Linked DNA regions of Homo sapiens. The protein of the gene in region 7 purifies or fractionates together with the protein of the main gene of each other region. This does not show direct contact. Each region holds a gene or a part of one and is shown on either strand. Other genes may lie near its edges.

Evidence for each region.
Region 1: the proteins of FSCN1 (region 7) and HADH purify together in Homo sapiens (affinity purification with mass spectrometry, with the first as the bait; one study listed by BioGRID). This does not show direct contact.
Region 2: the proteins of FSCN1 (region 7) and TMEM33 purify together in Homo sapiens (affinity purification with mass spectrometry, with the first as the bait; one study listed by BioGRID). This does not show direct contact.
Region 3: the proteins of FSCN1 (region 7) and LMO7 purify together in Homo sapiens (affinity purification with mass spectrometry, with the first as the bait; one study listed by BioGRID). This does not show direct contact.
Region 4: the proteins of FSCN1 (region 7) and IPO4 purify together in Homo sapiens (affinity purification with mass spectrometry, with the first as the bait; one study listed by BioGRID). This does not show direct contact.
Region 5: the proteins of FSCN1 (region 7) and LOXL2 purify together in Homo sapiens (affinity purification with western blotting; one study listed by BioGRID). This does not show direct contact.
Region 6: the proteins of FSCN1 (region 7) and ASS1 fractionate together in Homo sapiens (co-fractionation; one large-scale study listed by BioGRID). This does not show direct contact.

Annotation. Positions count from the first base shown.
Region 1 is NC_000004.12:108,024,389-108,027,888, reverse strand, and holds part of HADH (hydroxyacyl-coenzyme A dehydrogenase, mitochondrial isoform 2 precursor), read right to left. Parts: intron 202-3,500; coding exon 129-201; intron 1-128. UniProt on the Homo sapiens protein: Mitochondrial fatty acid beta-oxidation enzyme that catalyzes the third step of the beta-oxidation cycle for medium and short-chain 3-hydroxy fatty acyl-CoAs (C4 to C10).
Region 2 is NC_000004.12:41,948,929-41,952,428, forward strand, and holds part of TMEM33 (transmembrane protein 33), read left to right. Parts: intron 1-373; coding exon 374-457; intron 458-3,500. UniProt on the Homo sapiens protein: Acts as a regulator of the tubular endoplasmic reticulum (ER) network by modulating intracellular calcium homeostasis. Mechanistically, stimulates PKD2 calcium-dependent activity. Suppresses the RTN3/4-induced formation of the ER tubules.
Region 3 is NC_000013.11:75,856,330-75,860,366, forward strand, and holds the end of LMO7 (LIM domain only protein 7), read left to right. Parts: intron 1-176; coding exon 177-279; intron 280-1,591; coding exon 1,592-1,614; coding exon of another isoform or gene 1,615-1,684; 3' UTR 1,685-3,537; downstream 3,538-4,037.
Region 4 is NC_000014.9:24,182,768-24,185,816, reverse strand, and holds part of IPO4 (importin-4), read left to right. Parts: intron 1-249; coding exon 250-358; intron 359-504; coding exon 505-634; intron 635-836; coding exon 837-950; intron 951-1,053; coding exon 1,054-1,167; intron 1,168-1,398; coding exon 1,399-1,519; intron 1,520-1,707; coding exon 1,708-1,819; intron 1,820-1,918; coding exon 1,919-2,034; intron 2,035-2,149; coding exon 2,150-2,227; intron 2,228-2,303; coding exon 2,304-2,361; intron 2,362-2,461; coding exon 2,462-2,567; intron 2,568-2,647; coding exon 2,648-2,841; intron 2,842-2,974; coding exon 2,975-3,025; intron 3,026-3,049. UniProt on the Homo sapiens protein: Nuclear transport receptor that mediates nuclear import of proteins, such as histones, RPS3A, TNP2 and VDR. Serves as receptor for nuclear localization signals (NLS) in cargo substrates.
Region 5 is NC_000008.11:23,299,759-23,303,120, reverse strand, and holds part of LOXL2 (lysyl oxidase homolog 2 precursor), read left to right. Parts: intron 1-957; coding exon 958-1,094; intron 1,095-3,362. UniProt on the Homo sapiens protein: Mediates the post-translational oxidative deamination of lysine residues on target proteins leading to the formation of deaminated lysine (allysine).
Region 6 is NC_000009.12:130,496,961-130,499,367, forward strand, and holds part of ASS1 (argininosuccinate synthase), read left to right. Parts: intron 1-2,407. UniProt on the Homo sapiens protein: One of the enzymes of the urea cycle, the metabolic pathway transforming neurotoxic amonia produced by protein catabolism into inocuous urea in the liver of ureotelic animals.
Region 7 is NC_000007.14:5,599,316-5,602,815, forward strand, and holds part of FSCN1 (fascin), read left to right. Parts: intron 1-3,500. UniProt on the Homo sapiens protein: Actin-binding protein that contains 2 major actin binding sites. Organizes filamentous actin into parallel bundles. Plays a role in the organization of actin filament bundles and the formation of microspikes, membrane ruffles, and stress fibers.

The DNA.
Region 1 (3,500 bases), on a different chromosome or scaffold from region 7:
CAAAGCTAGAAAACAGACACTGCTTCCTCCATTGTGCACGGCCCGACCCCTCCTAGAGACACTGAGAATTCCAGACAGTGGCGCCAGGAGCTGAGGTCTGCTGCTCCTGGCCTGGGTCAGAAGGATACCTCGTTCATACAGCCTGATTGCTTCCATGAGGTATGGAACCAGGAGGCGGTTCACAATAAACCCAGGAGTGTCCTGTTTTGGGAGACAGAAAAACAAAAAACTAGTAAATTTTCATTAAATGGTATCTTTTGTGAAGTCACCAAATTGCCCCTTCTTACCCTGGATCATGTTTGCCCCCATTTATCAAGCTGTACATTTTCAAAATTTGCAGCATGGCCTTATTTCTATCTCATATGACAATTTATCCAACAATCATAGTACTTAAAAAAACATTCAAACCCAGATGCCCCACTGCACAGATCCTGACATAAAGACAGATCAAGGCACAGGTGTGACCTGGAAGAGCATGGCTTTGGGAGAGACAGATTTGGGTTCAATCTTGAATACTCTCTTGGTCCTTCTGTCACTCTGAATCTGTTTCATCATCTGTGAACTGGGGGTGACAGTTTGTCTCAAAGTTGTGAAGATAAATCAGAAAACACATAAAATGCTGTACACACAGCCCTACACCCATCCCTTTATTCCTCCTCTTTCCTCCCAATTCCCTTTCAAGAATCGACAAAACGTCACACTCCACCTTGAATGGTCCTCAAAGGAGGACTGCTTTCCAGGCTCCTTGGAGCCACTCCTCGGCTACTCAGCAACTTCTCAGGTTCCAGCGCACACTGCAGTGGAGCTGACTTGAGGGCACGTGCTCCGACAAAGGAGCAGAGCCTCTGACAGAGAGCTGGCCTTTCACGGCACACCCCCTAAGACCTCTGCATCCTGCGGTGACCCCTGTGCCACATATGCCTTTCATCCATTTCCCTTCTCAGTAACTAACAATAATCATCTCTCTGGAGGACAGGTGTGGGATTTGGATTTTATCTACTGATCTCTTCCGGGGACTTGTAGAGAAAAGCAGGTGATTTTTTTGTTGAAGCTGATTTCCACTAGGCAAATGGTGCCTCCTCTTTTGTCAAAAGGCTGTGATCTTCCTGAGGGCAGAAATCCTCACCCTGGCCTGAACTCTGCATTCTGTTTCTAGCACACACCAGGTACTTCCTTAATGTCTGAATTACAGATGACCAGGCACTCCTCACAGAGCTAACCTGACTGCATGCGGGGAAACTGGACAGTAACACAAAGGATGTGAACCTCCTTTAACCCTAGGCAAACTGAAACCAAGCCCTAACCCCATCTATTGCCACATGAGCACAAAGATGCACAAACAAGTTTTATCAGCTTAATTAAGATTATGGAACAATACAGATTTTATAATTGAGGCAAAAATACTCTTTTCAACTTCAAAAGGTTCACTATAGACTCAAGATAGGGTACCTGAGAACATGAAGCTCCAACAGTTAATATCTTCTACAGAAAAAGCTCATAGAGCTCAATAAGGAAAAAGTGCCAAGACTCATTAAATATTTAAACTCACTGGCCAGTCGCAGTGGCTCACACCTGTAATCCCAGCACTTTGGGAGGCCAAGGCGGGAGGATCATGAGGTCAGGAGTTCAAGACCAGCCTGGCCAACACAGTGAAACCCTGTCTCTACTAAAAATACAAAATTAGCCGGGTGTGGTGGCACGCGCCTGTGGTCCCAGCTACTCAGAAGGCTGAGGCAGGAGAATCGCTTGAACCCGGGAGATGGAGGTTGCAGTGAGCTGAGATTGCGCCACTGCAATCCAACCTGGGAGACACTGCAAGACTCCATCTCGAAAAATAAAAAAATAAATAAATAAACTCACTAGTAATCAAAAAAATACGCATTTTTGCCAACAAGATTATCAAAGGTTTTTCCCCCACTGTAATAATATTTGATGCTATTGAGAATGCAGAGAGACAGATGCTATCAGTATATTGGTGGAATGTGAAAAGACACAGTCTTTTTTTTCTCTTGGCAGGGTCTTGCTCTGTTGCCCAGGCTGGAGTGCAGTGGCATGATCTCAGCTCACTGCAGCCTCCACATCCTGGGCTCAAGCGACCCTCCCACCTCAGCCTCCCAAGTAGCTGGGACCACAGGTGCACACCACCATGCCCAGCTATTTTTCTGTAGAGAGGGTTTTTGCCATGTTGCCTAGGCTGGTCTCGAACTCCTGGGCTCAAGTGATCCACCAGCCTTGGCCTCCCGAAGTGCTGGGATTATAGGCGTGAGGCACCGTGCCTAGCAGGAGACACAATCTTTAAATAAAGTAATTTTATTTTATGTAATCAAATTCATATTTTTCAGATTATTTATTAAACACATTTTATTTACTGTACTTACTGTGTGCCAGGTACTGTTCTAAATACTTTAAAAATATTAATTTATTCATTCCTCATAATAACCCTGTGACAGAGGTACTATAATTATCCTTATGTGAAGCATGAGGACACTGAGGCACAGCGAGGTTAAGTAGCTTGCCTAAGGTTACACAGCTAATAAGTGCCGGCACCAGGATTTAAACCCAGTTGGGCTAGTTCATACCCTTAACCTATATACCACAATCCCCTCATGAAGTCTCACTAGGAAGGCACATTCCAGGCACATTAATGCCCCTCTTCTATGTCAAGTATTGGTAAAGTACAATACTGTAGCCCACAGCCTGTTTTTGTAAGTCAAGTTTTACTGGAGCACAGCCACACTCATATTGCATATACTGTCTATGGCTGTTTTCATGCTACAACAATAGAACTGACTACTTGCAACAGAGACTGTATGGCTGAAAATATTCACTATCTGGTCCTTTACAGAAGTTTGCTGACCCTTGTCCTATGTAGTTGCCATATATTGTCCAGATGCCTCATAAAGAGCTTCAATAACTGACCCAGAAAGACCCTCTGAAAGCCCTTAGAATACCACACAGAGAGAGTTCTGGAATGACCTAACAAGATAATTTAATGAGAACAAAGAGTTCCCATCTCTGCAGCTGCCGTGGCCACTCTGATGGAAGACTGAATCATTACTTTGTAGATTAATTATTATGCTGCTGAAGATAATCATTAGCTTTTCCCTGTACTTCTGTTTCCATATCTTTTTGTCTTGCACAGATGTTCTTTTCAATACCATTACTACTTTCTTCCACTAACAAAGCATAACTGCGTAAGAAAGTACAATCATAACATCCAATTATTAATATGAGTTTAGAAATCTAGATGACTTAAAACTACAGAACCAAACAAACAAAAAATGGGTGTTAAAGCATGAGACTCCCTAACAACACTTTACCCATGGACGGGGAGGAGCAGGACACACAAGCCTGCTCTCTTTGGCTGCTGGAGTCCACCTCAACAGATGGCTTCTTCAGGTGATTCATGAACAACATGATTTTTCATGGGTTAGTACAGTACTGTAAGTTCAAACTCGAGAATATTTTAGAAAGCAAAAGTTTGCTATGAGAACTATAAT
Region 2 (3,500 bases), on a different chromosome or scaffold from region 7:
TCTTTTTATATATATAAAATAAGTCACTTTTCATTTGCATATTTTATGAAGCTTTACAACTTGATTTCATCAATTAGTAATTACGGAATTATTTAACATTTTCTGATTTATTTAGTATTTTAAAAAATTTCAAAAGTAATACAGATAAGAATACATTTATAAAAAAATTAAACAACATTTTACTCTTTACCAATCATGTACATTCTTTTATATCCTTTTTTAAGGATAACTTGGATTTAGACATGATAGATTTCACTATGACCATTTGATGAATGAAGATACACATATTCTCCAGTTGAATTGCTTTTAAGTTTTGAGAGTATACACATGAATTGAAATGTATATTTATCACGCTTGTATTTGTTTATTTCAGTGGTCAAGGAAGTTTGCTCCAACCTTTTATATACTATAGATTTCTTACCCTTCGATATTCGTCTCGAAGAAACCCATATTGTCGGTAAGCTGATGATTATTTTAGGCATGTTTTATTTGTTGAGAGTATTGTGAATATATAGTATTCGCAATTCTTAAGAGTTACTTAGCTAATGTGTTAGACTTTAGAAGCAAGCAGTGTTTTTGTAAATTTAAGTTCTAGGCCTTAGAATGTACTGGGGTTGGTGAGGAAGTGGTTGTATTTGTTCTTAGAAACTGAGACTGCAGTTATCTACGCCACCTCTAAAGCACTGCTAAAACTTAGCAAATTTTAAAATGTATAAGACATAGATTCCACTCTCAACTTTCCTAGTTGAAGAAACAAAACACGTGTCAATTAGATAAACAATGGTTAGGATACAGAATTCACAAGCCAATAGATAATGAATGCCATATGTTTGCTTTATTATATCAGTACTGCAGTCCACAGAAGGGAGAGATCATTGGGCCAGAAGATAGATGAGCCCAGGAAGGTTTCACAAAATTGAGATTGTGGGAGGAGTAAAGCTTTTGAATAGGGAAAAGCATTTTAGGTGGGGCAAGAGAGACGAGAAGCACAAGCCATATTTGAGGAACTTTATGTAGAGCTGTTTTGACTCTAATGGAGATTCTGAATGGCTAATTGCTGGAGCTAAGATTAGAAAGGTATATTGGAGCTATATTATAAAACTTCTTGAGTTTTAGGGTAAGAAGTTTGGAATTTATCTTTTAGGTGAATGGGAATGATGGTTTTGACATCGTCAGAATATTCTTCTGATACCCTTGTGCCAGAAGAGTTTGAAGCAGAAAAATGGGGAAGCAGAGAAATTTTAGGGAATTACTGTAGTTTTCAGGAATGGAGGCTTAAATTAATATACACTAAATTATGCATTCTGATCTCAAGCATTGGAGTAAAACTAAAATGATACTCAAATACTAATATTAAGATAATCTATTTTTAAGTTTAAAATAATGTAGAATTCAGCTAGAAATCCAATGAGTGCATTACAGCAATCTGTATATTTTCATAAGTACAGTAAAAAGAACTTGAATTTGAATGCTGGCCCATCATTAACTAGTTGTGTGACTAGGCAGGTTATTTATTTGGATTTCTTCATTGGTAGAGGAAATAACTCCTTCTGGGGGTGAAGCGAAGTAATATTTTAAAAGTACTTAGACTGTTATGTTCTTACTAGTTCATTTTCATTATTCTATGATCTGATTTTCTGTTCAGAGCGTTTTTATGCTCTATTAGACAATGTCTTTTTTATAATACTTTCTAAAATAGAACTTATTTTAGACATTCGTTCTTAGTGAGTCTCTAGTAGCAAATTAACATTCATTTTTACTTGATTTCTTGAGTTTTAGCCTTTTTTCTTTCTGGTCCCTATATTCATTTCAGACATTATCTTATATTCTCTTGCCCTGACATCTGTTATTTTAATCAGCATATTTGTTTTTCTGTGCTTCTTTGTGCCTCCTTCTCCATTCCCATTTTCTTCACATACCCTTAAATCATATTAGTACATCTAGAATTCAGTTTTCAGTGGACTGAAAAGGAAAGGATAGCAGTGAATCAAGATAACACAAATATGTGCTGGTAAACATCTTCAAAGCTGTCTTATAAGCACCCATTTTAACCAAACCAGTGGAAAGGTAATGGAAAATATTTCAGCTTGTAAATATTGATAAACAGGCTATAAAACTACATTTTCAGTACTACACTTTTTTTAATTAAAGGTTTTGAGACCATCTCTATTCACAATTTGTACCATTTTCACCTACGATATTTATTCTCAAGTTGGTGGTTTCAGTTGTTTTTGGATCTCTAGTGCAGATTGTCTATAGCTGTGCTGTCCAGTACAGCACAGCAACCACATTTGACCTTTAAATAAAATTCATAAAACTTAGAACTTGGTTCCTTTTGAGCACAGTTCAGGTGGGTACTCAAAAGCCATGTGTTGCTGATGGCAACTGTGGGTCAGCACACATATGCAAAAATTTTGTCATTACTCAAAGTTCTGTTGTCAGTGCTATTAAGGAACTCTCTGACTGGTCCTTCAGCACAGATATGCAAAAATTTTATCATTGTTCAAAGTTCTGTTGTCCGTGCTGTTAAGGAACTCTGACTTGGTCTGTGCCAGCGATGCAGCCAGTAATAAAAGAACTATGTGACTTTAGTGAAAGCGATTGACTTCATTAGTCCTCATGTCTTCTAGCTTTATTCATTTGACTGATTGGTTAAAACAGTGATTGTATGTTGATGAACTTATGTGGAATTAAAATATCTTCTTTCAGAGGTACTCACTGCTGAATAAATTAGACAGCTATGTAAGTCAGTGTGATGATGAAGGTGCTCTGAAAGCATAGAGAACAGACAGAGACAAATAAGAATTCACTGAGGAGGTGGGAACATAAGCCAAGTCTTTTAAAGAATGAGCCTGAGTTCTGACACATGGGTGCCTGAAAAGTGCTTAGCATACTTGAGCTCAGGAAGTATATAGAGAATTGATAAATATCTGTGTCCACAAAGGTAGATGGTAGAAAGGACTAGATCATGAAAGGGTTTGGATTTTATTTTGAGGTAAGGAGAGCCTTTGAAGATTGTAACATAGAGAGGCTGGGAACCCCCATGATGAAATCTGATTTAGAAATATTCCAGAAAATGGATTGCAAGCTCAGCAAGAGAAGAAAAATATCAATTTGGAGACTATTAGAGTAGTCTAGAGCCTGAATTAATCCAGTGGTAAAAGGAAAAGGGGACAAATATGAAAGGTATTAGGAGATAGGATATTAGGGCTTGAGAGAAAAGAGTAAATTAAAGACCCACAGGTTTCTGGCTTGGAAGCCTAAGAGTTGTAATGGTGCTCTCACGAAGACAGGAGATACAGGAAGGGCAGGTTTTGGAAAATTATGCATTACTCCAAATATTATTATTCCTGTCTTTCTGTGCAAGCATATTAAATACTTGTTTAGAAAAGTAGATTTGTTGCTTTTTTTCTAACCATAGAAGTAAAACAGGACACAAAAAGGTAGAATAGTAGTTGCATCTTTATACAGGATGAGTCAGCACATAAGGTGAAAATTGT
Region 3 (4,037 bases), on a different chromosome or scaffold from region 7:
TATCTGGCGGTCTTGATTTGAATCTACTAATCATCTTTCGGCCTTTTTTTTTCTTTGCTGAAATGTATCTAAGAGCTTAGAAGTAGCATTCTGCTCATTTCCCCCCCACCCCCAGGAGTGCCCCAAGCTTTCTTGAGCTGACTGATTGTAGATGTTCTTTTTTTTTTGTTCCCCAGTGTGTTGCCTGTGAGTGTGACCTCGGAGGCTCTTCCTCAGGAGCTGAAGTCAGGATCAGAAACCACCAACTGTACTGCAACGACTGCTATCTCAGATTCAAATGTAAGAGAGCAAATCAGAGAGAAAATTTCTTGCCTTTTAAGGAGGCCACGGGTTCCCATGCATTTCCCTGAACCTGCAGCGAGCTCCCCTCCAAGTTCACTGCCATAGGATTCCAGGTTTCAAGAATTGTAGTGTGTTCCCTTCAAAGAGTGTGTATAGTGAATGGGTCACTGCTCAGGGTTCCAGCTACACAGGAGTGGGTTGTGGGGCCAAGGAATGGAGAGGAACAGTGTCCAAAAGTCAGGATGGTGTCTTGTGTTATCTGCCCAGAGTCCGCAGAGACCTTTAATGACTCAAGAATACAAACAAACCAAAACACTTAAATGAATCTTCTATGTAGGATTTGTTTCTTGACTAAAGATTGGTCCCTCATCAACTTCTATTATTTAACAATGGGCTTTGATTATGTGATTTAGAATATGACCAACTTTAAAAAATATTGTTCCATGTAATACAAAATAAGTCAGTTTATGCTTTATGTTAATATATGTCAATATATAATTTTAAAAGGAAAGTATTAACTATGGTGTTTCAGTGTCATTTTTGGAAAAAATGAGTTTTTCAAAAAACTTCAAATGCTACTTTGCATCTAAGCATGTGTTTGTGTGTTATAAAAGGTAGGCTAGCATAACTAGGTTGTGTGTTGTGTATAGCTACAGCAAGACAAGTATTACTGCTGTTTTATATTTTAAACCTTGATGCTGGTAACATGTGTTTCTTCCTTATTGTGAAAGGGTGTTACAAGTGGTATCAGCAAAATCATTTGCTTTTGAACTCTGAGGTATTTATATGGCCCCTATGTGAAGAGTGCTTTGGAAATGGTTTAAGCCCAGTCAACTCTCTTTTATCTGTCGGTGGGTTCTGAGCCTTCCTGCTGCAGCTGTCCAGTCCTTTCCTGGATGCTGACACTGAGGTTGGAGAAAGTCAAGGCTGGGCATGTACTGGTGGGGGGTGTGTGTATGTGTGTGTGTTTTTCTCTCTCTCATCAAATTCCAAAGCCAAATAGAAATGATTTCTGGAATCACCATTGTAAAATTGCCCATGCCTTTTCTCTCCTCCAAAACAAATAATAGAGAGTTGAGTGTAATTTATTTCTATTGTGAGCAGTTCATTTTTACTCCATTTTTACAAATAAAGAATTCCAGAGACGAGACACTGAGACTTGCCTAGCTTTATCCTAAGAGTGAGTGACAGGTTACTCTTTCTACCTCATTGGGCCACTTTCTGAGTGATGACTGCTATGTATCCCAGATGGCAATATTCACGTTTCTGAATCTAAGCACTTTTCTTTCTTTTCTCCTTGCCCGATCAGCTGGACGGCCAACCGCCATGTGATGTAAGCCTCCATACGAAAGCACTGTTGCAGATAGAAGAAGAGGTGGTTGCTGCTCATGTAGATCTATAAATATGTGTTGTATGTCTTTTTTGCTTTTTTTTTAAAAAAAAGAATAACTTTTTTTGCCTCTTTAGATTACATAGAAGCATTGTAGTCTTGGTAGAACCAGTATTTTTGTTGTTTATTTATAAGGTAATTGTGTGTGGGGAAAAGTGCAGTATTTACCTGTTGAATTCAGCATCTTGAGAGCACAAGGGAAAAAATAAGAACCTACGAATATTTTTGAGGCAGATAATGATCTAGTTTGACTTTCTAGTTAGTGGTGTTTTGAAGAGGGTATTTTATTGTTTTTTAAAAAAAGGTTCTTAAACATTATTTGAAATAGTTAATATAAATACATAATTGCATTTGCTCTGTTTATTGTAATGTATTCTAAATTAATGCAGAACCATATGGAAAATTTCATTAAAATCTATCCCCAAATGTGCTTTCTGTATCCTTCCTTCTACCTATTATTCTGATTTTTAAAAATGCAGTTAATGTACCATTTATTTGCTTGATGAAGGGAGCTCTATTTTCTTTACCAGAAATGTTGCTAAGTAATTCCCAATAGAAAGCTGCTTATTTTCATTAATGAAAAATAACCATGGTTTGTATACTAGAAGTCTTCTTCAGAAACTGGTGAGCCTTTCTGTTCAATTGCATTTGTAAATAAACTTGCTGATGCATTTAACGAGTGGGTCGTCTTTTTCTTAGGTGTATGTGTCTGACCTCAGGCCTTTTAGCCATATTTCAGTATGTGGCCTTTTTTGATGTTATGTTTTATCCAGTAGCTTTACTAAGGTATAATTGATGTAATAAACTGCATATATTTAAAGTGTATACTTTGACAAATTTTGACATGGTGTATACCTTCGAAACTATGCCACAGTCTGGATGTGTTTACTGAAACATTTTAATAAGGAAGTTTATTTTTGATAAAGTTATGTTTTTGGATACAATATATTTGTATGGTGAGAGTGATGAATTGTTGGATCATTTGAATAAAATCTTTTACTAACCCCATGATAAAAGGAGAAGACAACAGTGAGCTTAGAATATCTATAAAGCAAAAAATGTAGTCTCTTGTTTAAAAAATCTGGAGCGGGAATGCAAGGATACAAAACTTTAGCATGCTTTGAGCAAAAATTTAAACTTACTGGAATCTTTTATAATAATGTAAGTGGAATGGAGGATTCTAGGAACTGAGAACTGTATTGGAATAGGTTCAAAATATGTAAGAAATGCTAATGTGGGAGATAAAAATTTTATTTAGTACTTATTCTGATTATTATTAAAGTAATAATGTGTTCCTTGAGGATAACTTGTCAAATGCCCCAAAGCATAAAGAATATAATTCTGAATCCCAAATTCCAAAGACAAGAACTCTGTGTTTGAATTCATTCTGCATATAATTATTTATAAGTATAGATTGTGAATTTTTCCATGTTCTTAAAATTATTTTTATCTTTTTTCATGGTTGCATAGTGCTCCATTGTTTGGCCTTGGTAATATTTAGTTGATAATTCCATTACTGTGTATTTTTCACTTGTTTCTAAGATCAAACATTTTAATATGTGCATGTTATATATAAATATGTAAATTCTGTGATACTCTATGATCATCTCTTTCTTTATATTATTTTCATAGACATGAAATAGTTGCTCAGAGATTATGCATTTTAAGACACTCATAGTATATATTGCCAAAGTGGTTTCCAGAAAGGCACTGCTGGCTTCGACTCCTATAAGCAGCACGTGGGCTTGTTCATCTCACTGCATGTTTATGAAGATACAGTTCTTTTGCCTTGTTCTCTGCCTGATGTGTATGCAGAGGCAGCCCTCAATATGCAGTGGTTGAATAAATGAATGAAGAAACCACTATCAATTTCTGCCTTGTTAATTCTGTTTTCCACTGTCCCCAGAGGATGCCTTAATTCTGCCATCATTTTCGTTTCCTTATCCAAAATCCTTTCTGACCATTGCTCCTTTTCATCTAAGCCTTTTGTCTTTTCATCTGCTCTTGTTTTCTTATGATTTTTTCCCCCATTTCTCACATTATCTTACTTAGTGATAACATTTCTGTTAGTACAAATTATAAGTACAGTTTTCAGAGCTATTTTCTTCTAGGATACCGGCTCTACATTTGTATAAGCCCTTGGGTATTTGTTACTTCACCTAGGAACAAGGGAAGAGTCCAGCCCTTCAACAAATTTTTTAATTCATACTTTATGCTCCAGGCACTGCTTTTGGCACCATGGGTAGAACAGTGAAGAAATACAGTCTTGGCTCTGATTGGTCTTATTTTTCTGGTTGAGGGAGGTGATAAAACAATACATGAAAAAATAACATGCAGGTGGCGATGAGAGCAACAAAGAACAAAT
Region 4 (3,049 bases), on a different chromosome or scaffold from region 7:
ACCATGGCTGTCCTGGTTTACGCTTGTTGTTCAAGCTTATTTATCAACAGCGTTTCCCCCCATTATCAAAAGTGTCCTGGCTTGGAAGATAAATGACATGGCTTACCAGCTATAGGGACCAGGGGCTGCTGCCCACCCTCTGGTGACAGGAAAAGCCTTGGTTTTTCCAGGGAAAATGAAGAGAACAGGTCAGCCTAGGGCTCTCAGGTGTAGCTTCTCAGCCTATGTCCTCTTGTTTGCCCCATCCAGACTGCTGCCCCCACTGCTGCAGATTGTGTGCAAGGGCCTGGAGGACCCCTCGCAAGTTGTACGCAATGCTGCGCTGTTTGCCCTGGGCCAGTTCTCAGAAAACCTACAGGTGAACCAGGCTGAATGTGGGAGCCACCACTTGAATGTCCCCTTCCCCTCATCTTTCATCTCTTCAAGCATCCCTGCTGCCATCAGCACTCTTGTGTGTGCCCGGCAGGTGAACCTGACTCAGGCCCTGCTTGCTCCCTCCCCCAGCCCCATATCAGCAGCTATTCAAGGGAGGTAATGCCACTGCTCCTCGCCTACTTGAAGTCGGTGCCTCTTGGACACACACACCACCTAGCCAAGGCCTGCTATGCCCTGGAGAATTTTGTGGAGAACCTAGGTAGTGATGGCAGTGGGGAGCTTGGGGAAGGGGGATGAGGCGGCGGCTTTGGCTGAATGTACAGGATGTGCATCTCCCTGCATTGCTGCCTGTGGTAGGGGAAAGGGTGTGATGGTGCCAAAAAAAGGTTTCCGCCTGGAGGGAGGTGGGCGTGCAGGTAGCAGACCTGGGTTGGTTGGTAGAGGAGCATCCTTTCCCACAGGGCCCAAGGTGCAGCCCTACCTTCCGGAGCTTATGGAATGCATGCTGCAGCTTCTGAGGAACCCCAGCAGTCCCCGGGCCAAGGAGCTGGCTGTGAGCGCCCTGGGAGCCATTGGTGAGGAGAGAGGCAGGAGGCAGGGATGTGGGGTTCACCCAAAGGCCCTGTGGCTGGTGGTCCCTGCCCTCTCCAGCTCTGATTCTGTCCTTCCATCCTGCAGCTACGGCTGCCCAGGCCTCGCTGCTGCCCTACTTCCCTGCCATCATGGAGCACCTGCGGGAATTCCTGTTAACAGGCCGTGAGGACCTTCAGCCTGTGCAGATCCAGAGCCTGGGTGAGTGAGAGGTTCCCAGGTGGGGCTCCCAGTGCCAGCAAAGGGCTGGTGCTCACCTGGTGTTGACAGATTGCCCCCACAGGAGCACGGATGTCTTCCTTCTCATCAAAGGGGTGTGCTTCATGCTGTACCAAGGGGTGGGGCGGGATTTCTGAATCCCTCCCAGCCACCACCTTTGGTCCCGTAGCCCACCTCCACCTCCTGGTGCTAATGGAGCCCTTGCCCCCACAGAGACACTGGGGGTGCTGGCACGAGCAGTGGGGGAGCCCATGAGGCCGCTGGCTGAGGAATGCTGCCAGCTGGGTCTGGGCCTCTGCGACCAGGTAGACGACCCTGACTTGCGGCGCTGCACGTGAGTGACCCCTCACCCTGCCTCTGCCCTTGTCCCCTCCCCTCCTGTCTTCCCACTGGACCCACTGGAATCCCCACCCCAGACTCCAGTCGTCTGGTTTGGACCATAGCCAGGTGTTCCCGGGCTCCCCCATCCTGCCTGGTGGTAGCAGGCAGGACCTTACAGCTTCTTCTGCCTGCTTTGACCAGGTACAGCCTATTTGCAGCCTTATCGGGTCTGATGGGTGAGGGCCTGGCGCCCCACTTGGAACAGATCACCACGCTCATGCTGCTGTCACTGCGTTCCACCGAGGGCATTGTGGTGAGCAAAGGGTGGGTGGGCTGGGCCAGGCCTGCCCTGCAATGGGATTTATCTCCTGGGCCCAGCTGAGCCAAAGTCCTTGCCGTGCCTCCGCTCCAGCCTCAGTATGACGGGAGCAGCTCCTTCCTTCTGTTTGACGATGAGAGTGATGGGGAAGAAGAGGAGGAGCTCATGGATGAGGATGTGGAAGAAGAGGATGACTCAGAGATCTCAGGGTGCGGAGGGGTGCTCTTCTGATCAGGAATCTAGACTTTGGCTTTAGACAAGGGCCTAGTGCTGGATCTGCTCCTCTTGGTGCCTGATCACCACTGCCTCCCCTTCTTACTCTAGGTACAGCGTGGAGAATGCCTTCTTCGATGAGAAGGAAGACACCTGTGCTGCCGTGGGGGAGATCTCTGTGAACACCAGGTGAGCATTCGCCCTTCCCTGGCACTGAAAACCCTGCCTGGGGGCCCCTTACCCACGGCTGTGTCTCTCTCTGTAGTGTGGCCTTCCTTCCATACATGGAAAGTGTCTTTGAAGAAGTATTTAAACTGCTGGAGGTGAGCGGGCCGGCGGGTGGAGTGGGTGGGGTTCTCAGGCTGGGGGCCCTGTGTTCACGGTGCACATAGCAGACATATCCCGCCCCTCCTCATCCTGCAGTGCCCTCACCTGAATGTGCGGAAGGCAGCCCATGAGGCTCTGGGTCAGTTTTGCTGTGCACTGCACAAGGCCTGTCAAAGCTGCCCCTCGGAACCCAACACTGCTGGTGAGGAGAGGCTGGGCCAGGCTGGGGGTTCTTGGGGAGGGGCAGGGCCTGACTGGTGCTTCAGCCAATAATGTCCCCAGCTTTGCAGGCTGCCCTGGCCCGAGTCGTGCCATCCTACATGCAGGCAGTGAACAGGGAGCGGGAACGCCAGGTGGTGATGGCCGTGCTGGAGGCCCTGACAGGGGTGCTCCGCAGCTGTGGGACCCTCACACTGAAGCCCCCTGGGCGCCTCGCTGAGCTCTGTGGCGTGCTCAAGGCTGTGCTGCAGAGGAAGGTGAGCAGGGCAGGTGGGCTTCGGGAAGGAGAGGTGCTGGGCCTCGGTTGGGGACTGGCTACAAGTCCACCCCCTACCCCCATGAAAAGAGAAGGGGCGTGAAAGCTCCGCTAAGTTGAGCTACTTCTTGTAGACAGCCTGTCAGGATACTGACGAGGAGGAGGAAGAGGAAGATGATGATCAGGTGAGAGCCAGGGATAAAAACGGG
Region 5 (3,362 bases), on a different chromosome or scaffold from region 7:
GGGGCATGGGCATGACCTGGTTCCAAGGGCACCCGGATTCCCCAGAGCTGTGCTGACAGGCACTGGTCGGTCCACAGGGCCTCCTGGACAAGATCCAGACTCTGGGGACCCTGCTCCATCTGGGCTTAGCAGCCTAGACCCTGATGCGTATGCCCCTCCCACTCTGGCTGCCACCAACCTTTTTTCTGGTGTCCCAATGCCAAGTGTCCCTACCACACCAGGTGTCACCCTTCAATTATATCTCAAATGCCCTCCTCTGAAGCGCCCCCCCGTCCCGGCAGGTGTGGCACTCTGCTCACACTTCTGGTAGGTCACCACACCTGCCCTGTGATCACCTGTTAGTGCACCTGCAGCCCTGGGGGCTCTTCATGGGGAGACATGTCAGTTCTTCTTGCTAGACCCACTGTTTACAGCAGTGTCCAGGCATGGCAGCTTCTCAGTAAATGCGTGTTTAATTTGTTATTCATTGAAGCGGCCCGCCACTGACTTGCCGTGAAATCACACAGCAGACAGGTGTTGACCTCTTACCATGTGCAGATAACATGTAAGTGTCAGAGAGACATGGGCCTACACTCTAATTGCCGATCCTCCAGAGGAGACAGACAGTATGACCCCCCACGTTTTGCTAAACCACAGGCACCAGAGATTTCCTCGGTCCACACACACGCAGTTATCCCCAGGCTGAGGATGTCACAGAAAGGCCAGGGTGGATCAGAGTGGTCAGGGAGGGCTTCATGGAGGAAGGGGAACTTGAGCCTGGCCTGAGAGAAGAGGCAGGATGTGGGTAGGGAATTGAGTGGGGGGTTCTACTGAAATGAGAACAGATGAGCAGCCCACACAGTGGGGTGGGATGCCGAGCCCAGATGAAGCAGCGGTAGGGGCCTTGGAAGCAGGAAGAGGGTGCGGCAGTGGGGCCATGGTTCCCTGGTGATGAGCTCTCCTCTACCCTGCCCGCAGACATCCAGAAGAATTACGAGTGTGCCAACTTCGGCGATCAGGGCATCACCATGGGCTGCTGGGACATGTACCGCCATGACATCGACTGCCAGTGGGTTGACATCACTGACGTGCCCCCTGGAGACTACCTGTTCCAGGTGAGGTGGGTGGGAAGGGGTTCCAGCCCTGCAGGGGGAGGAGGGGAGGCCACCTCCACAGGCTCCTTCCCATTGGTGTCCACACAGGGGCATGGAAGTCAGGCTGTCTAAAGGGCAAGGTGCTACCCCCAGAGGCCATCACGGTCCATCAGTTAACCCAAAGATATCAGGCATGGGGGCCTGAGAAATAGGGCGTGCACAGGACCAGAGACACCACAGGCATTCACATTTGATTGAGTTAACACCTGGTGCATGCAAATCAAAACTCATCAGCAGGCTAGATTTGCTCCTCCGGCCAGTTTATTCCATACATGCTCAGGCAACCCACACCTCTTGTCTCCTATGGAGCTCTTGTCTCCACCATCCCCATTTCTCCTAGTGCCCTAGGCTGCCTTGGTCTGTGCTTTCAAGACTGAAAGCAAACTCATAAAGAGCCAGTCACTTGCAAATATCTGTGACTTAGCTCTTCCGGAAATATCTGCCTCATAGAGGAGGATCTGCAGAAGGGGCCATTCTCAATGCAAAGTGAATCTATAAGAATAAAATACTGAACACGAGACACAGCCTGGCCAGGTGACTTCTTTGTCAGAGGGGTTGCCGAGATTTGTTTCCACATACTCTGGGTGGAAGGCCAGCCCTGAGGAGGAACAAGGGGGCCTTGGCTTCCCTCCTTCCTGAAAACAGCGGCATGTTCTGGCCAGGGCTCTAACTGGGGGAGAAAAGGGGCATTGTGTCCCTAGTGTCTCTCCCAGTGCACGGGTACACGTAGCCTGCAGAAGCTTTATCTCACCCTCTCACTCTCTCCTACGTCCTCACCCATCTCGTTTTCCAGCTTGCCCTGTTGGCTAGCAAAGTGGATGACCAGAAATGTGTCATTCCACCTTGAAAGCTTTCCTGAGGGGGCATTCAGCCAGCCCAGGGCCTGGCCCACGGTCCCCACCTACAGACAGTCCTCTGAAGAAACAACACCTTCAGAGAAGTCACCACAGAGGGGCTTTCAGAGAATTCCTGGGCAGTTTCAGAGGCTGGAAAGCAGACAGCCAAGCACTTTTCCACCCACAAGCCCAGAACCACAGACTTGGAGAGGCCTAACCAGAGAGTTATTTATTTTAAAAGATGAATAGCCGTGGCCATGTGCACGTATACAGTGCCTGGTGGTTTCTGTTTGAGGTTTGCTATCATTTTGCTGGGTGAGTGTGTATCTCCCTGTATTCTGGCCAGTGCCATCCACTTAATAACTACTATCAATTGCCTAAGCCTGGGGAATGCATTGTTTGATTTAATCTCCCAAGGAAGGGGCATCATCATTACCCTCATTTCACGGCCACCCAACCCCAGACATATCAACTCTTTATTTTGTTTTCTCAACCCCTAAACAATACAATTAGCAAATGGACTCATTAGGGGCATGTTAATACCTCTGATTAATCAAAAAGAACATTCCCCTTAAGATAGACATGGAGCTTCTTTAGGTGCCACAAGCACCGGCCTGGGGACTCACGGGACACAAGAGGTGGTCTTCACTTCAGACATCAGTGGTGCTGTGAAGGACAGGAGGAGGGAGCTGGGCGAGGAGGAAGTGACCGTCCACGCAGAGGGACCTGTGCAGAGCTCAGAGGCAGGGGTGAAGGGGCCTCCTGGCTCCTGGTGGCCCCGCTTTATCCGCTTTCTCATCATTTCCTAGATTCACAGACATACAGAAACCTAAAGCCACTTCCCGCAGGCCCTCGTGAGATGTCGGTCTGCAGTAGATGAGTGGGGTGAAACAGTGGGGGACACACATTTCCAGCCCCGCCTCCACCCCACACGTAACACTGGCCCTCGTGTCCCCAACACGAGCCCTTGCTGCATCCAGCCGCCCTCACGGCTGCACTGTCGAGACGCCTGGGCGGCCAAGGAGCTGCCTAGGCCTGCACAGCTGGAGGCCTTGGCATGTGGAGCTGTGTTTGCCCCATGCCATGTGTGGGCCAGGAACGAGGGGGCAGCTAGAATGGTTGGGTGGAAAAGAAAAAACTCAAGCCGCCCCGGAGCAGGGCATGTACCTCCTTAGCTAAAGGCACAGGGCCCCAGCGGGACACAGCTGAGCCAGGTGCAGGCCCCCAGAACAGCCCCGCTGGGCCAGAGCAGAGGGCCGGCTGCCAGGCTGGCCTTGGCTTCCCACAGCACCTCTTTGGGCAAGCCCAGCGGCCTGCTAAAGGTTCGTGTCCAGGCCCTTCTGGGGCCCCAAATTTAGAGAATGTTCCTGAACGAGCAGCCTGTACCCGCCCC
Region 6 (2,407 bases), on a different chromosome or scaffold from region 7:
GTCAATATTATTTTTTTCTTTCCCTTCTCCTTGCCATGTTGAGTTTCTCCCCGCTTCAATCTTTCTAAACACTTTATAAGCCATAAATACAACTGAGTCAGTTTAGATCAGTTGGGGTAAATGTCAAATTATCTTCTCTCTTTCTCTCTCTGGCTCTTTCTTCCCTCCCCCTCCAAATCAACAGCCTCTAATAATCTGTCCAACCCTTCATTAAGCCTTACAGTCTCACTCAGGGAGATTAAATGAATAAAGTAAAAAGGGAAAGGGGAAAAAAGAGAGAAAAGCAGGAGCATTTATTCTCACTGTGTCTCCGACCATTTCCCTTTTCTTTTTGATTTCTACATCGCTGACTTGAAAGCCCTTGAGTGACAGCGTCACAGGGACCAGCGAGGAAGCCGTGAGAGGTAGCAGAGCTGGAAATGCCGTGGCTCAGTAGGTAGAAAGTAACGTAATTATAGAGCAGGTCAGAGCCACTCGAATGAGCAAAAATAAAAGCACAGAGGTTTTCTGTAGACCGTCAGGGGAGGTAAAAAAAAAAAAAGAAAAAAATCATTGTAAACTCTTTTTCCACCTCCCCGCTCACTTCAAACCACAATTTTAAAAAGAGGTTTTTTAGTTCCTGAGAAACCCCTCTTGGAACTCCCAGCAGCCTCGTGGGACAAGTTTGTCCCTGGATGTGGGCCCTCTTTGCAGGGGCTGCCAGGGCAGCTGGGAAGTTCCCACCTTGGGGAACGGGATGGGGAGAGTTTGTTGTGACTTGTGAGAGATGGAGGTGAAGGGACAGATGGACACAGAGGTGGGGGGATTCTGTGTCCTACGTTCTCCCTGGGCTGAGTATAGGGGCCAGTGGGGCTGAGGCTCGGTTTCTAAAACAAGGTCTGTTGAAGGGATCTGAGGAGGTTGGTGGTCTAGTTTGGTCTAGCTCTTCCTAAGCACTGACTGCACAGAAAGGGGTGGCCAGCAAAAGTCTGGTATCTCCTCCTCTTCCAGGGAATGCAAGCTCCTAGTGGCTTCAGTGCCTGAGCCCTGGAGGGGCCGTGGAGGTGTGGAGGAGGGAGGAAGGGACATCAAGGAGGTACAGGAGCATGGGAGTGACTCTGCAGAGAGTTCCACGCACCCACCGGCTTCAAGGCCTGGTGAAGGTCAGGGCCCGGGTCCTGAACAAATCACTGGGGCCAGGCAGATGCAGAGACCTCATTTGTTCTTGTAAAAAGTCCACTGTCTACAAAGAACCAGTCAGAGGGCCAGCCTCAGGGTCTCAAAGCAGCAGATCCTCCTGCCTCCCAACACCGACCCCCGCTACCCCTACCTCGAGAACCTTGAGTCAGCTTTGTCCCAAGGCTGGAATTCTGCAGACAAGGGTCTGATTCAGAGCAGGACATGACAAGGGACCCCATCCTCTCAGAGGCTCAGAGGCTGGCCTTGTGGAGTAGGAGGCATCTGAGTCCACGTGCCCTAAGTGCTTAGCACAACCATAATTAATGAAGGCAATGGGTGATTGATTGCTTCGGTCTGGCCCCTCCCTGTGGACACCACTCTTGCTCTTCCTTCCTTGGCACCTGGCCCAGCATCTGGCAGGCAGCAAGGGCTTAATAAATGCCTGAACAAATGAATGAGTGAATGAATACTGTTAGTACTAGTGGGTGCTCACCATGTGCCAGGCACCAGCTACATTATTTCATGTGGGGCCAAATGTGACACTGAGAGCTAACCACCATCACGCATTTCACAAGTGCAAGGCTGAGGCTCCGAGTGCAGGAATACTGGCCTGGGCTCTCTGGTGGCGGGTGGCGGAAACAGGACGCAAACCCCAGTCAGCTGGCTGGAGTGACTGCCATGGTTAGGAAGGTTGGGAGGAGCAGCTAAGGGTGGAGAGCCCCAAAGCAGAAGGCTGGTGAGTCTGAGAGGTGGAAACTGTAGAGAGGTAAAATCTGCTCTGCTGAGTACAGCAGCAGTCAACCCAGCATTTTCCATGACACACTGGCAGTGGGTGCCCAGGTTTCAGGATGGATTAGGTAAGGTCTAACTGGTTGGACACATGAGGGGAAAGGTGACTTGGTGGGCCCATCTCGCTGTGAATGCTGGAGGCCTCCCTGCAGCTTGCGAAATGCCCTTGTGCTATTGCAATTCACACCCCAAGGCCTCCTGAGCCTTCAGGTCACTGCATGCCATCCACACAGTCCCAAGGGCACAGCTGGCTTGGACGAGTTACCCATTTACAGACAGAGTGCTCTGGTTGGTGGAATTCATAGGGCTAGTTCTGGGGTGGCTGCTCCTAGCCTCCTGCCACATTGTGTAGCAGGGAAGAGGCTGCTGTGTGCTCCACTAGGGCTCTCCAACCTTTGGGTGGGTGCCTGGCCCAGAACAGGGTTCCCTGAGTTGTACAGAAATTCAATGGAAAGCCGAC
Region 7 (3,500 bases):
AAGAGGGTGGGGCAGGGAAAGGGCGTGGCAAGAGGGCCACCCACCTCCGGTCCAGAGAGCCAGCCAGACCCTTACTTTCTCTTGCTGTGTGACCTTAGGCAAGGACATGCCACCACCGGCCTTAGTCTCCCTCTTTGTGAAGTAGGATGAAGATCCCCACCTGTGGAGCAGATGTGGGGCTGCATGGTTGGGTCAGGATGGAACAGGATGGGGAGGCCGGGCGTGGTGGCTTACCCCTGTAATCCCAGCACTTTGGGAGGCAAAGGTGGGAGGACTGCTTGAGTCCTGGAGTTTGGGCAACATAGCGAGACCACCCCCATCTCTACAAAATAATGTTAAAGTTAGCCAGGTGTAGTGGTGAGTGCCTGTGGTCCCACCTACTGGGGAGACTGAGGCAAGAGGATCCTTTGAGCCCAGGAGGTGGAGGCTGTAGAGAGCCATGCTTGGGCCACTTGCACTCCAGCCTGGGCAACAGAGCAAGACCCTATCTCTAAAAAAAAAATGGAATTGAGGATGTGTCCTCTGGGTGTGGGCTCTACCACCCACCAGCCTCCCTCTCCTGTGGGTGCTGCCTGCCACCCACCGCTGAGGTCCCTGCAGCATCAAGGTGCCCAAACGAAGACACTCTCCAGCTCTGAGCCAGGCACCCATACAGAGCCCGGCAGACGCCTCTGCTGCTGCAGTTCTTAGAATCCAGAGCGCGTGGGGAATGTGAATTTGTGCTGCTGGAGCCAAACATCCCACCTCCAGGTTTTAGCTGGAGGAATCCATGTGGATATGCAAAGCAATGTAGTTATAATGAATAGCAATTGTGGGCTGGGCGCAGTGGCTCATACCTGTAATCCCAGCACTTTGGGAGGCTGAGGTGGGTGGATCACCTGAGGTCAGGAGTTTGAGACCGGCCTGGCCAACATAATGAAACTCCGTCTCTACTAAAAATACAAAAAAATTAGCCGGGCATAGTGGCGGGTGCCTGTAATCCCAGCTACTCAGGAGGCTGAGGCAGGAGAATCACTTGAACCCAGGAGGCAGAGGTTTCAGTGAGGCGAGATCGTGCCATTGCACTCCAGCCCGGGAGACACAGCGAGACTCTCTTTCTCAAAAAAAGAATAGCAGCTTTGCTATAGCTTAGGGGAGCAAAACCCGAAAGCCACCTTAAGTTTCCCGAAGATAGAGATCCCTGGGGTCCTATTCTGAGACAGAGTCTTGCTCTGTCGCCCAGGCTGGAGTGCAGTGGCGGATCTCAGCTCACTGCAGCCTCCGCCTCCTGGGTTCAAGCAATTCTCCTGCGTCAGCCTCCCGAGCAGCTGGGATTACAGGCGCCCGGCACCACCCCCAGCTAATTTTTTTTTTTTTGAGACAGAGTCTCGCATTGTCGCCCAGGCTGGAGTGCAGTGGCGCGATCTTGGCTCACTGCAAGCTCCACCTCCCGGGTTCACGCCATTCTCCTGCCTCAGCCTCCCGAGTAGCAGGGACTACAGGCGCCCGCCACCGTGCCCGGCTAATTTTTTTTTTTTGTATTATTAATAGAGACGGGTTTCACCGTGTTAGGATGATCTCGATCTCCTGACCTCGTGATCCGCCTGCCTCGGCCTCCCAAAGTGCTGGGATTACAGGCATGAGCCACCTTGCCTGGTCCTTTTTTTTGTATTTTTAGTAGAGATGAGGTTTCACCATGTTGGCCAGGCTGGTCTCAAACTCCTGACCTCATGATCCGCCCGCCTCGGCCTCCCAAAGTGCTGGGATTACAGGTGTGGGCCACTGTGCCCGGCCAGTCCCATTCTACTTTTTAGGGACATGGAATCATGTAAAGATGCCATACAGAAAACAGTATGCAAATCCAGAGACAGAGGACATCTGTGCATGTTTCTTTCTTTCTTCCTTTTTTTTTTTTTTTTTTTTTTTGAGATGGATTCTTGCTCTGTCGCCCAGGCTGGAGTGCAGTGGTGCAATCTCAGCTCACTGCAACCTCTGCCTCCCAGGTTCAAGTGATTCTCCTGCCTCAGACTTCCAAGTAGCTGGGATTACAGGCATGCCCCACCATGCCCAGCTAATTTTTGTATTTTTAGTAGAGGCGGGGTTTCACCATGTTGGCAAGGCTGGTCTTGAACTCATGACCTCAGGTGATCCACCCGCCTCAGCTTCCCAAAGTGCTGGGATTACAGGCGTGAGCCGCCGTGGCAACCCGCATGCTTCTTATGTATAAGAAAAAAACAGCTAGAAAGTTGTGGGTTCACTGGCTGGGCACATGGTGGCTTGTGTCTGTAACCTCAGCACTTTGGGAGGCTGAGTTAGGAGGATCATGTGAGGCCGGGAGTTCAAGACCATCCTAGGCAACATAGCCAGACCCTGTCTGTACCAAATAGAAAAAAAAATTAACTTGATGTGGTGGTGTGTGCCTGTAGTCTCAGCTATTTGGGAGGCTGAGGTGGGAGGATCACTTGAGCCCAGGAAGTCGAGGCTACAGTGAGCTATGATTGTGCCACTGCACTCCAACCTGGGCAACAGAGCAAGACCCTGAATCAAAAAGAAAGAGATGTATTTGCCAACACAGGGGTGTTCTGCAGTGGGGTGGGAAGGGGACGTGTAGGACTTCATAGTTTCCTTTTTTTTGTTTTAGAGACAGGGCTTAAAAAAAAATTTTTTTTTTTTTTTTGAGGCGGAATTTCATTCTTGTTGCCCAGGCTGGAGTGATCTCGGCTCACTGCCATCTCCGCCTCCCAGGTTGAAGTGATTCTCCTGCCTCAGCCTCAGGCAATTTTGTATTTTTAGTAGAGACGGGGTGACTCCATGTTGGTCAGGCTGGTCTCAAACTCCCGACCTCGGGTGATCTGCCTGCCTTGGCCTCCCAAACTGCTGGGATTACAGGTGTGAGCCACTGTGCCTGGCCCCTTTTTTTTTTTTTTAAGTAGGGTCTTGCTAAGTTGTCCAGGCTGGTCTTGAACTCCTGGTCTCAAATGATCCTCCTGACTTGGCCTCCCAAAAGGCTGGGATTGCAGGAGATATGAGCCACCGCACCCGGCCCTTTTATAAGTTTTCTAAAGGAAAGGAACATGTACCATCGTGTTTTATTTTAATTTTTACATAGAAGCAGGAACAATAGCATGAACCCCCAGACACGGCCCCCCAAGATGCGCTGTTCCGCTGTGCTGCAGCCCCATTTGTCCTTTTCTATACCATTTTTGGTTGTATTTGAAGCAAATCCCTGACATCAGGGCATTTCATCCCAAAATACTTCCATCTGTGTTTCTAAAAAAACGAGGCCATTTTCTTATGTAACCACAACGTGATCAACAGTAATCAATGCTTAACATCTAATTCTGGGCCACGTTAAGACCCTCCTGATTGGCTCAAGAATGTCTTTTGTGCAGTTGGTTTCTTGATTCTTTTTGTTTTTTTTGAGACAGGGTCTCACTGTGTCACCCAGGCTGGAGTGCAGTGGTGCAATCACGGCTCACTGCAGCCTCAGCCTCCTGCCTCAGCGATCCTCCTGCCTCAGC